Linked DNA regions of Homo sapiens. The protein of the gene in region 2 purifies or fractionates together with the protein of the main gene of each other region. This does not show direct contact. Each region holds a gene or a part of one and is shown on either strand. Other genes may lie near its edges.

The links. Proteins that work in one complex are often made in the same cells at the same time.
Region 1: the proteins of SLC35A3 (region 2) and LRP11 purify together in Homo sapiens (affinity purification with mass spectrometry; one large-scale study listed by BioGRID and IntAct). This does not show direct contact.
Region 3: the proteins of SLC35A3 (region 2) and TRPM4 purify together in Homo sapiens (affinity purification with mass spectrometry; one large-scale study listed by BioGRID and IntAct). This does not show direct contact.
Region 4: the proteins of SLC35A3 (region 2) and JPH1 purify together in Homo sapiens (affinity purification with mass spectrometry; one large-scale study listed by BioGRID and IntAct). This does not show direct contact.

Annotation. Positions count from the first base shown.
Region 1 is NC_000006.12:149,854,360-149,857,859, reverse strand, and holds part of LRP11 (low-density lipoprotein receptor-related protein 11 isoform 1 precursor), read left to right. Parts: intron 1-3,500.
Region 2 is NC_000001.11:100,032,496-100,035,995, reverse strand, and holds the end of SLC35A3 (UDP-N-acetylglucosamine transporter), read right to left. Parts: 3' UTR 362-3,500; downstream 1-361. UniProt on the Homo sapiens protein: Transports diphosphate-N-acetylglucosamine (UDP-GlcNAc) from the cytosol into the lumen of the Golgi apparatus, functioning as an antiporter that exchanges UDP-N-acetyl-alpha-D-glucosamine for UMP.
Region 3 is NC_000019.10:49,160,792-49,164,291, reverse strand, and holds part of TRPM4 (transient receptor potential cation channel subfamily M member 4), read right to left. Parts: intron 1-3,500. UniProt on the Homo sapiens protein: Calcium-activated selective cation channel that mediates membrane depolarization. While it is activated by increase in intracellular Ca(2+), it is impermeable to it.
Region 4 is NC_000008.11:74,238,041-74,241,540, forward strand, and holds part of JPH1 (junctophilin-1), read right to left. Parts: intron 1-3,500. UniProt on the Homo sapiens protein: Junctophilins contribute to the formation of junctional membrane complexes (JMCs) which link the plasma membrane with the endoplasmic or sarcoplasmic reticulum in excitable cells.

The DNA.
Region 1 (3,500 bases), on a different chromosome or scaffold from region 2:
TTCTCCTTGCCCACTGCCTACACAGAGCTGATTTATCAAGACAGGGGAATTGCAATAGAGAAAGAGTTTAATTCACAAGGAACTGGTTGTGCGGATAAAACACAAGACCAGATGAGCCAGTTTATCAACCTAGGTACTGCCAACGGGGTGCTGCCAACCATCGAGGACAGGGTCTATAAAATATCTCAAGCACTGAACTTAGGTTTTATAATAGTGATGCCTAAGCCATAATTTCTAATCTTGTGGCTTATTTGTTAGTTTTGCAAAGGCAGTCCAGTCCTCAGGCAAGAAAGGGGCTTATTTGGGGAAAGGGCTGTTACCATCTTTGTTTCTTTTTACTTTTTTTTTTTTTTTTGACACAGGGACTCACTTTGTTATGCAGGCAGGAGTGAAGTGGCACAGTCTTGGCTCACCGTAGCTTTGAATTCCTCAGCCCCCCAAGTAACTGGGACTATAGGCATGTGCCACACATCAGGCTACTTTCTGTATTTTTAGTAGAGATGGGGTTTCACCAGTTCCAGGCTGGTCTGGAACTCCTGGGCTCAAGCAGTCTGCCCACCTCAGCCTCCCAAAGTGCTGGGATTACAAGCATGAATCACCACACCCGGCCGCGTCTGTTTCAAAGTCAGACTGTAAACCAAGTTCCTCCCAAAATTAGTTCGGCCTATGCCCAGGAATGGACAAGGACAGCTTGGAGATTAGAAGCCACATGGAGTCAGGTCAGATCTATTTCACTGTTATAATTTTCTCAGCTATAATTTTTGCAAAGTCAGCTTCAAAATCCCTCAGTAAATGGCAACTATTATAATTATTATCAGCAGCACCATAGGGAGAAGGACTGGATCAGTACATACCAAAAATCACAATAATCATATTGGGGTTGCGGATAATTTTTTTTCCGAAGTGTTGCAGTTGGAAATCCATGATGGATTTTGACCGCATGTATCTGAGCCTCTTCCCCTAGTCTCGCCCCGCTTCCGTACCCTGACTTCAGGGTTCTTTCCAGTTGCTCTGCCTGAGCTATACCATTCGTTCCCACACAGCACAGAATGTCTTCCTTGTCATGGAGGCTCTGTGCACAGTAGCGTGTTGTGAATGAGGCTGGTTGATATTATATTACACTTCTCTGAATAAAATGCCACCTTGATTTGCTCATTCTCAATCGGCAGGAGTCTTATTTCACCTCTGTAGGTCTTACTAAGTGTGTTTAGTTTTCAAAAGAAACCAGTGTTTCCCTAGTACTTAACATGGGTTTATTACATTTTTTTGACAAAAATTCAAAATTACATATATTTTGTTCTTCATTAGCAAGTCACACATTTTAAAATGGCACACTCCCTTCCTCTTCGTGTTGTTATTTGTTTATTTTAAGGACTGTTTCTGGGTAGATAAGCTCTGGGTTATTTTAAAATACATTTTACAATGGAAATGGCCTGGACTTGAACTGAAAAGGAAACATTATCTGTGTTATTTCAGACACATCAGTGATCAGTTTAGAAGATAGGATGATTTCACTAAGCTTATAATTCATCTTAAAGCTCACCTAAATAAAAGTAAGTGACTAAAATGATCTTTTTCTTCCAGGAGAGGTAGGATTAATTAATTGTATAATGTGTGGAATATTTCAGCGCTTATCTGATTCTTCCATCTTAAATCTTTGAGAGTTTTTAAAAAATTATGTGTCCATTACTGTTTATATCACATAGACATATTTTCATTTGTCTACTTAAAAATGTATTTTTAACAAAGTTTAAATAGCTGCTAGCTGTAATGTATAACTGCTGAGTTATAAGATGCTTTCCAGAATTATAAAGTCATAAACCATTGTGTGGAAACAATGAACCTTTCAGAACCAAAGAAAAGGTCAACACTATGAAAGGACTATCAAAATAATGCAAGTGTCCTATCTCTCCTTACCTGGCAGAAGCAGCATAAAGACATCAGACACTCCGTGTTTGTTCAGAGGTGGAAAAAGGCAGAAGAACAAGTTTCTTCCTAGGCAGGGGATTGTTTACTTGGCTTATTTAAATCACAGTTACTAGTCCTCACTCTTAAGTGACTGGAAAAATGGGACACGTCTTCTCCATAGTTAGCAATAGCATGTAAAAAGCAATTGTGCTTAATTCCTCATAATGTGTTTTTTTTTTAAAAAAAAAAAAAAAGGCATCTTCCCTTTGTGGCTGGCAGCAGCATTCTCATTCAGAAAAGCCGCATCTCTAAGAGCCCCAGACCCCTCACATAAATCCCCTTGTTCCTGGATGATCAAGGTCCGGCTGCTTTTTCTCGCTTTCCAATGAGATGCAGACAGACTGGGAAAGAAGGGAGTTTATTTCTGCAACTGGTGACAGGAAGATGGTGGGAGTGACTCACCAGACCAACTCAAAGTTACAAGTTTTTCTTCAGTGTTTATTTACATTCAATTCAACCTCTATGCCTGTGTGAGAGTGTGCACCTACAAGCAGGAGTGTTTCATTCAGTCTAATCTTTAGGGTCTGGGGTCTGGAAAGTCTCTAGAGCCTTGGAAAATTTTCTTTAATCTTAAGTGGCCTTGATACAAGGTATATGTGTAAGAATGCCTTCGATCAGATGTTAGGGTCTGAGAAAGTCCAGGCGAGGTCTTAATGTATTTGTTTTCACATTCCAGGCCTTGTACTCAGGCACCAGTTTCTCCAGCTTGAATGTTTAACTTATGCATTCATCAGAATTACAGGAAAGGGTTAGTGGAAACTGGCTGCTCTGGTTGCTGATGACAACCTGTTGCCACACCCTGGTGCTGGGCATTGAGGGAACCACTAGAAGAGAAGAGAATCCTGGAGGGTTAGGTCCTAAACATCTGAAAGGCAATGGTAACTTGCTGAAGGGTTTTTCCTACTCGCAGAATGACCCCGTCAGATTAGCTTTCCAGAAGAGTCATTTCAGCTGCAATGTATCAAGAGTGGTCACCTTTTGTTCCGTAATGAGACACTGAGGTGGGATTGCAGTAAGCCCCGAAACTCAAGCACTGGGATGTGTGGCTTGGCCCTTTAGAAGTTTGTGTAGGTAGCAACATTGGCCCCTGTGGAGGAAAGTGATGGGCTCGAAAGCAGGAGGAGAGGCGGTGCCTTGCAGCACTGTGCAGGGTGAGCCAAAGAGGGGCAAGCCCAGCCAGCACTCGAACCAGAGCTTTGGCACTGAAGGAATGGGGAAGTGGATGCCAAAGAGGGCGTGGTACACAAACCTGTAGAGTTTTTCCAGTTCTGTTGCTGTTTCTTTAAAATATGTGTGCATTTGGGTGAATTTACTAAGAAGCTTACATCAATTAAAATTTTGGTAACTATGCTCTTAGAAATGTTTTCTTTGTACAGCTTATCCTTTCGGTCATCCCTGTAGCAGCTGTCAGTAAAGTATTAATATTGAAATAAACATAATTAACCTTATATTATTTAGTACCATTCTAGGTTAAAGGTAAATATAGGCTGGGTGCAGTGGCTCACACTTGTAATTCCAGCACTTTGGGAGGC
Region 2 (3,500 bases):
TTTTAATTTTTCTTTTGTAAAGACAGAGTCTGGTTATGTTGACCAGGCTGGTTTCAAACCTGGCCTCAAGAGATACTCAGTTCTACCAAAGTGCTGGGATTACAGGTTTGAGCCACCGCGCCTCGCCTGCAACTTTTTAGTTGACACCCAACTTGAAGTTCTTTAGAGAAAGTAATATGATAGATTTCATAATTCAATTCCCAGGAGCTTGTTTTGAATGGAAGTAGAGGGCTGATAATTTATTGTGTGGTTACTTTGATTTTCATAGTCCCTCAAAATCATACTTCATCTAGCTATACCAATTTTATCAGCCTTATGAACTGGTTATTGTTCAGTCATTCAAAAAATATTTACTGGGTGCTTGTGTTGTCAGTGTTTTATTAGATGCCAGGGATACATCAATAAATGAGACACTATCTGCACAGAGCTTACATTCTAGTGGGGGACACAGTTACAAAACAAAAGGAAGGTAATTGCAGATTGCAGTAAATACTGTTGGAAATAATGTAGTAAGAGAAATTTAACACATACTAAATGTCCAGAATGTCCCAGGCTTTGTGCTAGAAAGGCTGCAATGATAAACAAGAGAGAACAGTCCTGTTCTAATAGGCCTATTGTGTATGAACTTGTCGCTTTGTATGTGATTTGGGTTGTGAATACAGCTGGCCCTCAGTATCCTGTGGATTCAACTATCCTCAGAATAAAAATATTTTTTAAATCCCACAAAACAACAAAAATACAAGTAAAAAATACAGTATGACTACACAGCATTACATTGTATTAAGTACTATAAATAATCTAGAGATGATGTATGGGGAGGATGATAACCAAATACTATGCCATTTTATGTAAGGGACTTTAGCATCCACTGATTTGGATATCCACGGAAGTCCCACAACCAATTCCCACTCCCCTCCTCATATGGAGGGATGACCGTATTCACAAACTTTGCGCTAAGAGACTGATATCTCAGTTAGGGTTTTTTGGTTAGGATCAACAGAAACTAACACTGGCTAACAAACTAGTACTCGCTAACGTAAGCAAAAGGGAATTATTTGGAAGGATATTGGAAGTTTTGAAAATTAATGAGAAGGCCAAGAATCAGGCTTAGAAACAAGCAGAAACCAATGTTTGGAAAGTTCATGAAAACAGTTCATGAGGCACCTTGAAAGGGAGTGGGATTCCTTGGAAAGAAAGGCAAGTGGCCAAAAGTAAAAGATTCCTAAAGAAACAAGATTGTATCACAGAATCCAAATCCCACCCCCACCATGCACAATTTATTAAAGAAACTGCACTTCACCATGCTAACAGAAGAGGGTCCTCTTTAACTAAAAACTGAGTAAGTCACCCACATCCCTTCTACCCTCCATTCTATAGAGCCACCTGTTATTGCTGATTGAAGAAGATCCTACACATTTAATCATGAATAGAAAAGCCACCAAAAATCCATACAAGGCTATTATAAAAAACAGAAAATGAAAACTTTTCAATCAATAGAAAATACTACCCTCTAGACAATATGAAGCAGAGGCAAATAATATACAACACTCCAACATGAATATCATTAATTGCACATATAAAAGAACACAGCAAATAAAAATTTTTAAACTCAATAGTAAGATGTAAAATGAGAGTTGAACAAACATAGGCAATATACTGAAAAGATAAAATCATCTAAAAATGAAAACTAAATCACAGGGTACCTGAGAGACACAAATAAAAGTAAAGTAAGAAATACAGAGAAGAGGAATAAAACAGCTATGAGAACAAAAATGAGATAAAAAGGATCATAGATAAAATAATATAGAAAAAATTATCTGGGTCTCTAGGTAAAAAACAACAAACAAAATGTCATTTCCAAAAGGGAAAAAAATCAAGTGGTGCCACACTTCTTGATGATAACATCAAGCAACCCAACAGTGAAGCACAAATTCAGACAAACTCAAGAAAAGGAAATGTTTGTCAAGGATTTTCTACATGGCCAAGGTGTACTTTAAGTATCTAGGCTCCAGAAGAAATTTTAAACATGTCACAACTCAGAGAATATTGTACAGTACTTACAAGCCCTCCTTGAATACTCTACAGAAGAGCTTCATCCAGCCAAAAGTTGACCAGAGAGACTTCAGGTAAGTATCAGTAGGTTATTAAATATACTTTTTTAAAATTTTAATTAATTTTATTACAAAGGTGGGGATTAGGATGGGAAAATAGTGTGTAAATATTATATGTTCTAATCAAAAAGAAATAAGACTACAGAAAATATGAACAGATAATATATTCACTGACGGTCACATAGACAATTAGATAAGAGTCAAAGAACATCATTTAAAGGTGTCAAATTAAATAGTAGAGGCCTAGACAAGCAAATTGGGGACTCTAAATGCATTATATAAAATGTTATCAGTATAAATTAGAGCATACAAACCTTTCTAAACATCCAAAGAAATTTTATAAAGACCCCATGTTGTGAAAGAGGCACAGTAAGTACAGCAATATGCATATTTGTTTGCTTTTTAAAAAGAAACACATGAAAGATAAATTGGAAAACTAAGAAAATACTTATAATAATTACTTATAAGAGATGGATAATAATTACTTATAAGAGATGGTTAGGAATGGAGGGATAGGTATGACAGCTAGATTTTTTCAGAGTACACTTTTCATATAAAACTTTTCGAAAAAATTTATCTTTTTTTTTTTTTTTGTAGAGACAGGATCTCACTCTGTTGCCCAGGCTGGTCTTGAACCCCTGGCCTTAAGTGATCCTCCCACCTCAGACTCCCAAAGTGCTGGAATTACAGGGATGAGCCACTGCACCTGGCCATGTTGCTAAATTTTAGTTGTAAATATTAATTTGAATTCATGATCTTTTAAAATTGTATTTCCTAGCTATGTCCACTAAAATGGCCTAGAAACAATGACAGCTCAGTAACAATGGATTCTATAATAAATTCCATTCACTGGCTAGAAGGACTCCAAAGAAAAAATTAAATAAATCCCACTCCCCTTAAAAGGTATAGGGCTCCTTGGAGAATTAGCTGATAATCCAAATTTGGAACAAGACAAATATAAGGTAAGCCTCAGATTTCTTGTGCCTAAAGCAAATAAGGACTAAAAGACTAATGTGGTCATGTTTAAAAAACACAAGAGTGGCCGGGCGCGGTGGCTCATGCCTGTAATCCCAGCACTTTGGGAGGCCGAGGCGGGTGGATCACGAGGTCAGGAGTTCAAGACCAGCCTGGCCAAGATGGTGAAACCCCATCTCTACTAAAAATACAAAAAATTAGCCAGGCGCGGTGGCAGGCACCTATAGTCCCAGCTACTCAGGAGGCTGAGGAAGGAGAATCATTTGAACCCGGAGGGTGGAGGTTGCAGTGAGCCGAGATCGTGCCACTGCACTCCAGCTTGGGTGACAGAGTGAAACTCCATCTCAAAAAAAACCCAAGAGCTAGCTTGCTGTGACTTACATGGGCTAGAGGCTCACAATATATATGAGCATC
Region 3 (3,500 bases), on a different chromosome or scaffold from region 2:
GGGAGGGAGGGAGGGAAAGAGAGAGAAAGAAAGAGAAAGAGAGAAAGAAAGAAAGAGAGAGAGAAAAGAAAAGAAAAGAAAGAGAAAGGAAGAAAGAAGGAGAAAAATGTATCTAAATTCTTTGTTCCAGATTCCAGGAGTTCAGATATCAGGGGAGACCTGTATTTACACAAACCTAGTGAGCAGATTTAAGAGCAATTTTACAGAAGGGATAGCAGAGGTGCTACAAGGATTTGGCAAAAGCCGTAAAGACACTAAAAGAACGGCTAACTGATCCACACATGGGATGAACCAAACACACTTAGGCCAGGTCCTGGCACAGTGAGAACTACAATAAAGTGTCTTCTTCATTCCTGAGTCTACCTCCAGGGCCCTGGCATGCCTCAGTTTACCGACTTTGTCCGTTCACCCATTTCAGCTCCATCCTTGAATCCCCTAGTTCCCCTGCAGCTACTTCCAACACCTGCAGCTACTTCCCAGAAAGTTTGCTCTTCTGAGCAAAACTTCAAGGACGGCTGGGCACAATCCAAGCACTTTGGGAGGTCAAGGCAGAAGGACTGCTTGAGCCCAGGAGTTTGAGAACAGCCTGGGCAATAGAGCGAGACCCCATCCCTACAAAAAAAATTGTTTTAATTAGCCAGGTGTGGTGGTGCACGCCTGTGGTTCCAGCTACTCAGGAGGCTGTAGCAGGAGGATCACTTGAGCTCAGGAGTTCAAGGCTGCAATAAGCCATGATCACACCACTGCAGTTCAGGCTAGGCAACAGAGCAAGACCATGTCACTAAAAATAAGAAATAAGGCCGGGCATGGTGGCTCATGACTGTAATCCCAGCACTTTGGGAGGCCAAGGCGGGCGGATCATGAGGTCAGGAGTTCGAGACCAGCCTGGCCAACATAGTGAAACCTTATCTCTACTAAAAATACAAAAATTAGCCGGGCATGGTGGTACGCGCCTGTAGTCCCAGCTACTCAGGAGGCTGAGGCAGGAGAATCACTTGAACCTGGGAGACGGAGGTTGTGATGAGCAGAGATTGTGCCACTGCACTCCAGCCTGGGCAACAGAATGAGACTCTGCCTCAAAAAAAAAAAAAAATAATAATAATAAAATAAAAGCTCTTCACGGAATAGTCTGGAGCTTGTACTGTCCAATGTGATAGCTGCATGGGTTCTTTGTAGCCATGGAGCTCTTTCTGTTCTAATAAGTTAAAATTAAATCAAATAAAAAATTCAGGTCAAGTGCAGTGGTTCATGCCTGTAATCCCAGAACTTAGGGAGGCCAAGGTGGGCGGATCACCTGAGGTCAGGACTTTGAGACCAGCCTGGCCAACATGGTGAAACCCTGTTTCTACTAAAAATACAAAAATCAGCTTGGCATGGTGGCGGGTGCCTGTAGTCCCAGCTACTCGGGAGGCTGAGGCAGGAGAATGGCATGAACCCGGGAGGCGGAGGTTGCAGTGAGCCAAGATTGCACCACTGCACTCCAGCCTGGGCGACAGAGCGAGACTCCACCTCAAAAAAAAATTCAGTTTCTCAGGTACAATGGCCATATTCCAAGTGCCCAGTAGCCCCCTGTGGCCAGGACTGCCATATTGGATGTAGACATAGAACGTTTCCAAAATCGTGGAAAATTCTGACATTCAGTGCTAGGAGCCATTCCTTCTGCACAGCTTGCCTCCTACACTCTTTCCTCGGTGGAGCCACAGAAACTGAAATAAATTGTTTTTTTGTTTGTTTGTTTGTTTTGTTTTGTTTTGAGATGGAGTCTCGCTCTGTCTCCCAGGCTAGAATGCAGTGGTACGATCTCAGCTCACTGCAACCTCTGCCACCTGGGCTCAAGCGACTCTCGTGCCTCAGCATCCTGAGTAGCTGGGATTACAGGCATGTGCCACAGTACCTGGCTAGTTTTTGTATTTTTAGTAGAGATGGGGTTTTACCACATTGGCCAGGCTGGTCTCAAACTCCTGACCTCAAGTGATCAGCCCACCTCGGCCTCTCAAACTGCTGGGATTACAGCTGTGAGTCACTGTGCCTGGCCTGAAATTGTTCTTGATAAAAATCATCAATTTCCTGCCTGGCTCCATATACAACGGCCCTTATTCAGGTTTCATCTGACTGTATCACAAGTGGCCCTGGCTACAGCTGAAAGGCTCTCATTCTGGAAACCCTCTCCTTGGCAGGATACCCCTGCCCCTCTGGCCTTCCTCCCCGCCCCGGCTGCTTCATGCCTGACTTGTTTGTGGCTTTCTCTTGCTTTTCACCTCCCTTGAGTGTAGGTGTTCCCAGTGCAAGCCTTCCCTACATGATTCTCAAACCCAATGTGTGCAGAGGCCAGTCAAGTAACTCAACAGAAAGAAGTAGCCAGGGCCAGGAGCAGTGGCTCACACCTGTAATCCCAGCACGTTGGGAGGCCCAGGTGGGCAGATCACTTGAGGTCAGGAGTTCGAGATCAGCCTGGCCAACATGGTGAAACCTTGTCTCTACTAAAAGTACAAAAATTAGCCAGGCGTGATGGTGGGTGCCTGTAATCCCAGCTACTCGGGGGGCTGAGGCAGGAGAATCGCTTGAACCCAGGAGGCAGAGGTTGAAGTGAGCCGAGATCGCACTACTGCACTCCAGCCTGGGTGATAGAGCGAGACTCCGTCTCAAAAAAAAAAAAGAGGTAGCCGGGTATGGTGGCTCTCGCCTGTAATTCCAGCACTTTGGCAGGCAGAGTGAGGTGGGAGGCTCACTTGAGTCCAGGAGTTGGATACCAGCCTGGTCTGGTATCAAAGGGAGACCCGGTTTCTACAAAAAATTTTAAAATTAGCCAGGCATGGTGGTGCATGCCTGTGGTCCCAGCTACTCCGGAGGCTCATGTGGGAGGATCGCTTGAGCCCAGCAGGTCAAGGCTGCAGTGAACCATGATCGTGCCACTCCAGCCTGGACAACAGAGCAAGACCCTGTCTCAAAAAAAAAAAAAAAAAAAAAAGAGAGAGAGACAGAAGACAGATATTTTTAAATGCTCTTCTAAACACACACACACACAAACACACGCACACAATTGGCTATAGAATTGCCAGTTTGCAACTCCCCTGACTTTACACGTTGTTTTCCCTGTGACGTCTTACCTACTTCCAGTTTCAATTACCAGCTACAACTCGGACCTCTCAGATTCTGGACATTAGTCCAGACCTTTCCCAATCTCAGTCCCCACATGCCCCTCGGTCCCCCTAGGCCGCTCATATGCACAGATTCCCACATTGCACTCAGCGACATTTCCCAAACCTGCTTGCCCTCCTGAGCTCTCCATCTCAGGGACAGCCCCACTGTGTCCCAGTCAGCAGAGCATACGTCCCGGAGCCATCCACCGATGGCGGCACCCCCTCTCTCCCTCATCACCCTCATCAAGCCCCAAGCTCTGCCTTCCTGCCCCCTGAGTCTTTGCCCCATGCCCTCCTCTCTGTGTCCCGAAAGCCCTGACCTGGCTCAGGCCACTACCCCTCCCGCTCAGACGCTCTCTA
Region 4 (3,500 bases), on a different chromosome or scaffold from region 2:
TAACCCATCTTTTCAGATCTGCTCCATGAAGAAGCCACCTTTATTACAAAGACATGATTGTGGTATTTACTGTTAAAATAATGTCTAATTCTTATATAGCATTAAAAGTATTCTAAACTGGCTTTATGAGGTAGGTAGTTTTATTGTCCTCATTTTACAGAAGAGGAAACAGTGGTACTCCATTTGGATACTGGGTAAGACTACACTGAAACAATGTTACAGAGGCCTCAAAAGTATTGATGTTTTTTGGGTGTGGGGTAAGTGAATAATGGAGATTGGAGCTGTCATTGGTCAAACACTAATCAATTCGGGTCTAGGGTTTGGGTCACACATCATTGACTCAAGAAGGTCTCTTTCCCTGACTGAGCCCACATCTCCGTGGTAGAGGTCAGAGTGCCCTGCTCTTTCTCTATCACAAGGCGTTTCACACTTGATTATCCTTTGTTGTTTAACTGCTATTTTCCCCCACAAGACTCTGAGCTCCACAGTGGCAGGGGCCTTGTCTTATTCACTGCTATGTACCCAGTGCACAGACACGTGACATTGCCCAATTCATTCAGGCAACCAATATTTAATGAGACTCTACTATCTTCCAGCACATTTCCAAGTGCCGTGGATGTGGGTTGTTTTGTTTTGAGACAGGCTCTTGCTCTGTCACCCAGACTGGAATGCAGTGGTGTGATCTCAGCTCATCGCAGCCTTGACCTCCCAGGTTCAAGCTATCCTACCACTTCAGCTTCCTGAGTAGCTGAGACCAACAGTGCGTGCTATCAAACCTGGTTAATTTTTGTATTTTTTGTAGAGATGAGGTCTCACTATGTTGCCCAGGCTGGTCTCAACTTCCTGGCCTTAAGCGATCCTGCCACCTTGGCCTCCCAAAGTGCTGGGATTCCAGGCGTGTACCACAGTGCCTGACCCAAATGTGGGTTGTTAAACGAAATGGATTAAATCACTGAATTAAATGAAGAACAAACAGGGTGATGAGTAAAATGGGGGAGGGAGAGGAAGTAAACATGAGTCCCCTTTAAGTGGGGACTATTAGGCAGAAGAAAAGCATCAGTTCCTAAACCCCAAGTAAATGGGAGGAAAATAAACATTTTTTGCAGGTTTTTATAATGCTGGGCAGTGGGTTAAACATCTCTGAGATTTTTTTTTTTGTTTATTCTTCACAAGTGATTATTAGTTCCATTTTACAGAGCTTAAGAGGACAGGTGTCTTGCTCAAGTTTCCTCAGCCAGTTTGAACAAATTGGAACTCGAATTAAGCTTTAGTCTGGTCACTTCAGAGCTCCATGCTCTTTTCTCTATATGTCTATTAAAGATACAGGCCTTAGTTTAAAGGCAATTTCCCATTCAGTCCTTTAAAATGACATTTTCCTCTATATCCTATAATTTCCACAGTATCAGAAAAACATCAAATTGTGATAACGACCAACTGCTCTTTTAGAATAGTTGTAATTCTAAATTGATAGGAGAGTCCTAACCTGTGCAACTCCTCAATTATGGTTAATTTAGAGCATAGAAATAATGCAGAAAACTCTTATAACTCAGAAAATAGTGGAGACGATCTTTCAATGTCACAACTGAGCACAGAGATTAAGGAAATATTATTACAGGCTAAGCATCCCTTATCTGAAACACTTGGGACCCTAAGTGTTTGGGGTTTCAGATTTTCTTCTGATGTACAGGTTGAGCATCCCGAATACAAAATTCTAAAATGCTGCAATGAGAATTTCCTTTGAGCATCATGTTGGTGCTCTAAAAGTTTCAGATTCTGGAGATTTAAAAAATTTTTAATTTTTGTGGGTAACATGGTATATATGTGATATTTTGATACCAGCATAGAATGTGTAATAATCACATCAGGGTAATGAGGTATCCAACACCTAAAGCATTTATTCTTTGTGTTCCAAACAATCCAATTATACTCTTTTAGTTATTTTATTTTTTGAGGTGGAGTCTTGCTCTGTCACCCAGGCTGGAGTGCAGTGGCGCGATCTTGGCTCACCGTAACCTCTGCCTCCTGGCTTCAAGTGATTCTCCTGCCTCAGCCTCCCGAGTAGCTGGGACTACAGGTGTTCACTACGATGCCCAGCTAACTTTTATATTTTTGGTAGAGACGGGGTTTCACCATGTTGGCCAGGCTGGTCCTGAACTCCTGACCTCAAGTGATCCATCCGCCTCAGCCTCCCAAAGTGTTGGGATTACAGGTGTGGGCTACCGTGCCCAGTTCTCTTTTAGTTATTTTAAAAGGTACAATTAAATTATTATTAACTACAGTCACCCTGTTGTGCTATCAAATACTAGATCTTATTTGTTCTATTTTTTTTTTTGTATCCATTAAACATCCCCTCTTCTCCCCTACGTCTTCACTTTCCATCCAGCCTCTGGTAACCATCCTTCTACTCTCCATCTCCATGAGTGTGATCGCTTTAATTTTTAGCTCCCACAAATAAATGAGAACATGCAAAGTTTGTCTTTCTGTGCCTGGCTTCTTTCACTTCACATCATGACCAGATGTTGGAGCATTCTGGATGTTCCACCTGTACTACTACACACTTAGATTAGATTTTGTTCATGAGTGTTTTAAGAATTTTGGATCATTTCAACTATTCTGGGCTACTGGGTTTATTTTATAATTTTCAAAGGTAATTTAGTGATATGAAAGGTGAGGAAAAATACACCTGGTCAGAACAATACAACATAGACTTTGGTGTCTTACAGTGGACCCAGGAAAGTGAAATAGCAGAGAACGTGCCTTCCATGAAGCCAACTTCTAAAGTCCAAGGTGTGCCTGAACCTTAACTCCCATTTCATAAATCCATATAAGATTCTGTGAATTTATCTAACCCCTTTGAATTAGTGAGTATTTTGAATTTGTATATTCTTTTGGTTTGAATTTAGATTACTATCTTTTCTCTAGTTTTTAGCCCACATATCACTGTACTGGCAATCCAGATTCAATGAATAGTGAATGAGTGCTTTATCCAAAATGAAAAATACATACATATATATTTTTTTCTTTTGCACGCATACACACACACACATATTTCTCCTGTATATGTTCTAATATACACACACATATATATTTATCCTACCAGGGTGGCTCCACTTAGAAAGCTATTTTTAAAGGTGACTCAGTGAAGATGAGGGAAAACTAGACATGAAAGCTTCAAACAGCAACCAGGGGAAAAATAAAAATCCGGGATGCTCTGTTCAGTGGCAGATACCAAGCCCTGGCCTCTGTGTTCTTTATATACCTAGGCACAGGATATGGGGTGAAAAGCTTTAAGGTAAAGTCTCATAAATACGACTGTGGTGGCCAGTTGTAGCTTAAAATAGCAAAATGAAAAAAAAATCTGTCTTGCTTTTCAAGACTGACTGGGACAGGTGTAATACAAGAAGCTGTAGCAGGGCACAGGGTAAGTCTTGATTGGAAGAAATTTTCCAGGTGGTAAGAAAATAAAAAACAGGAAATCAAAATACAGAAAGAAATCCTAA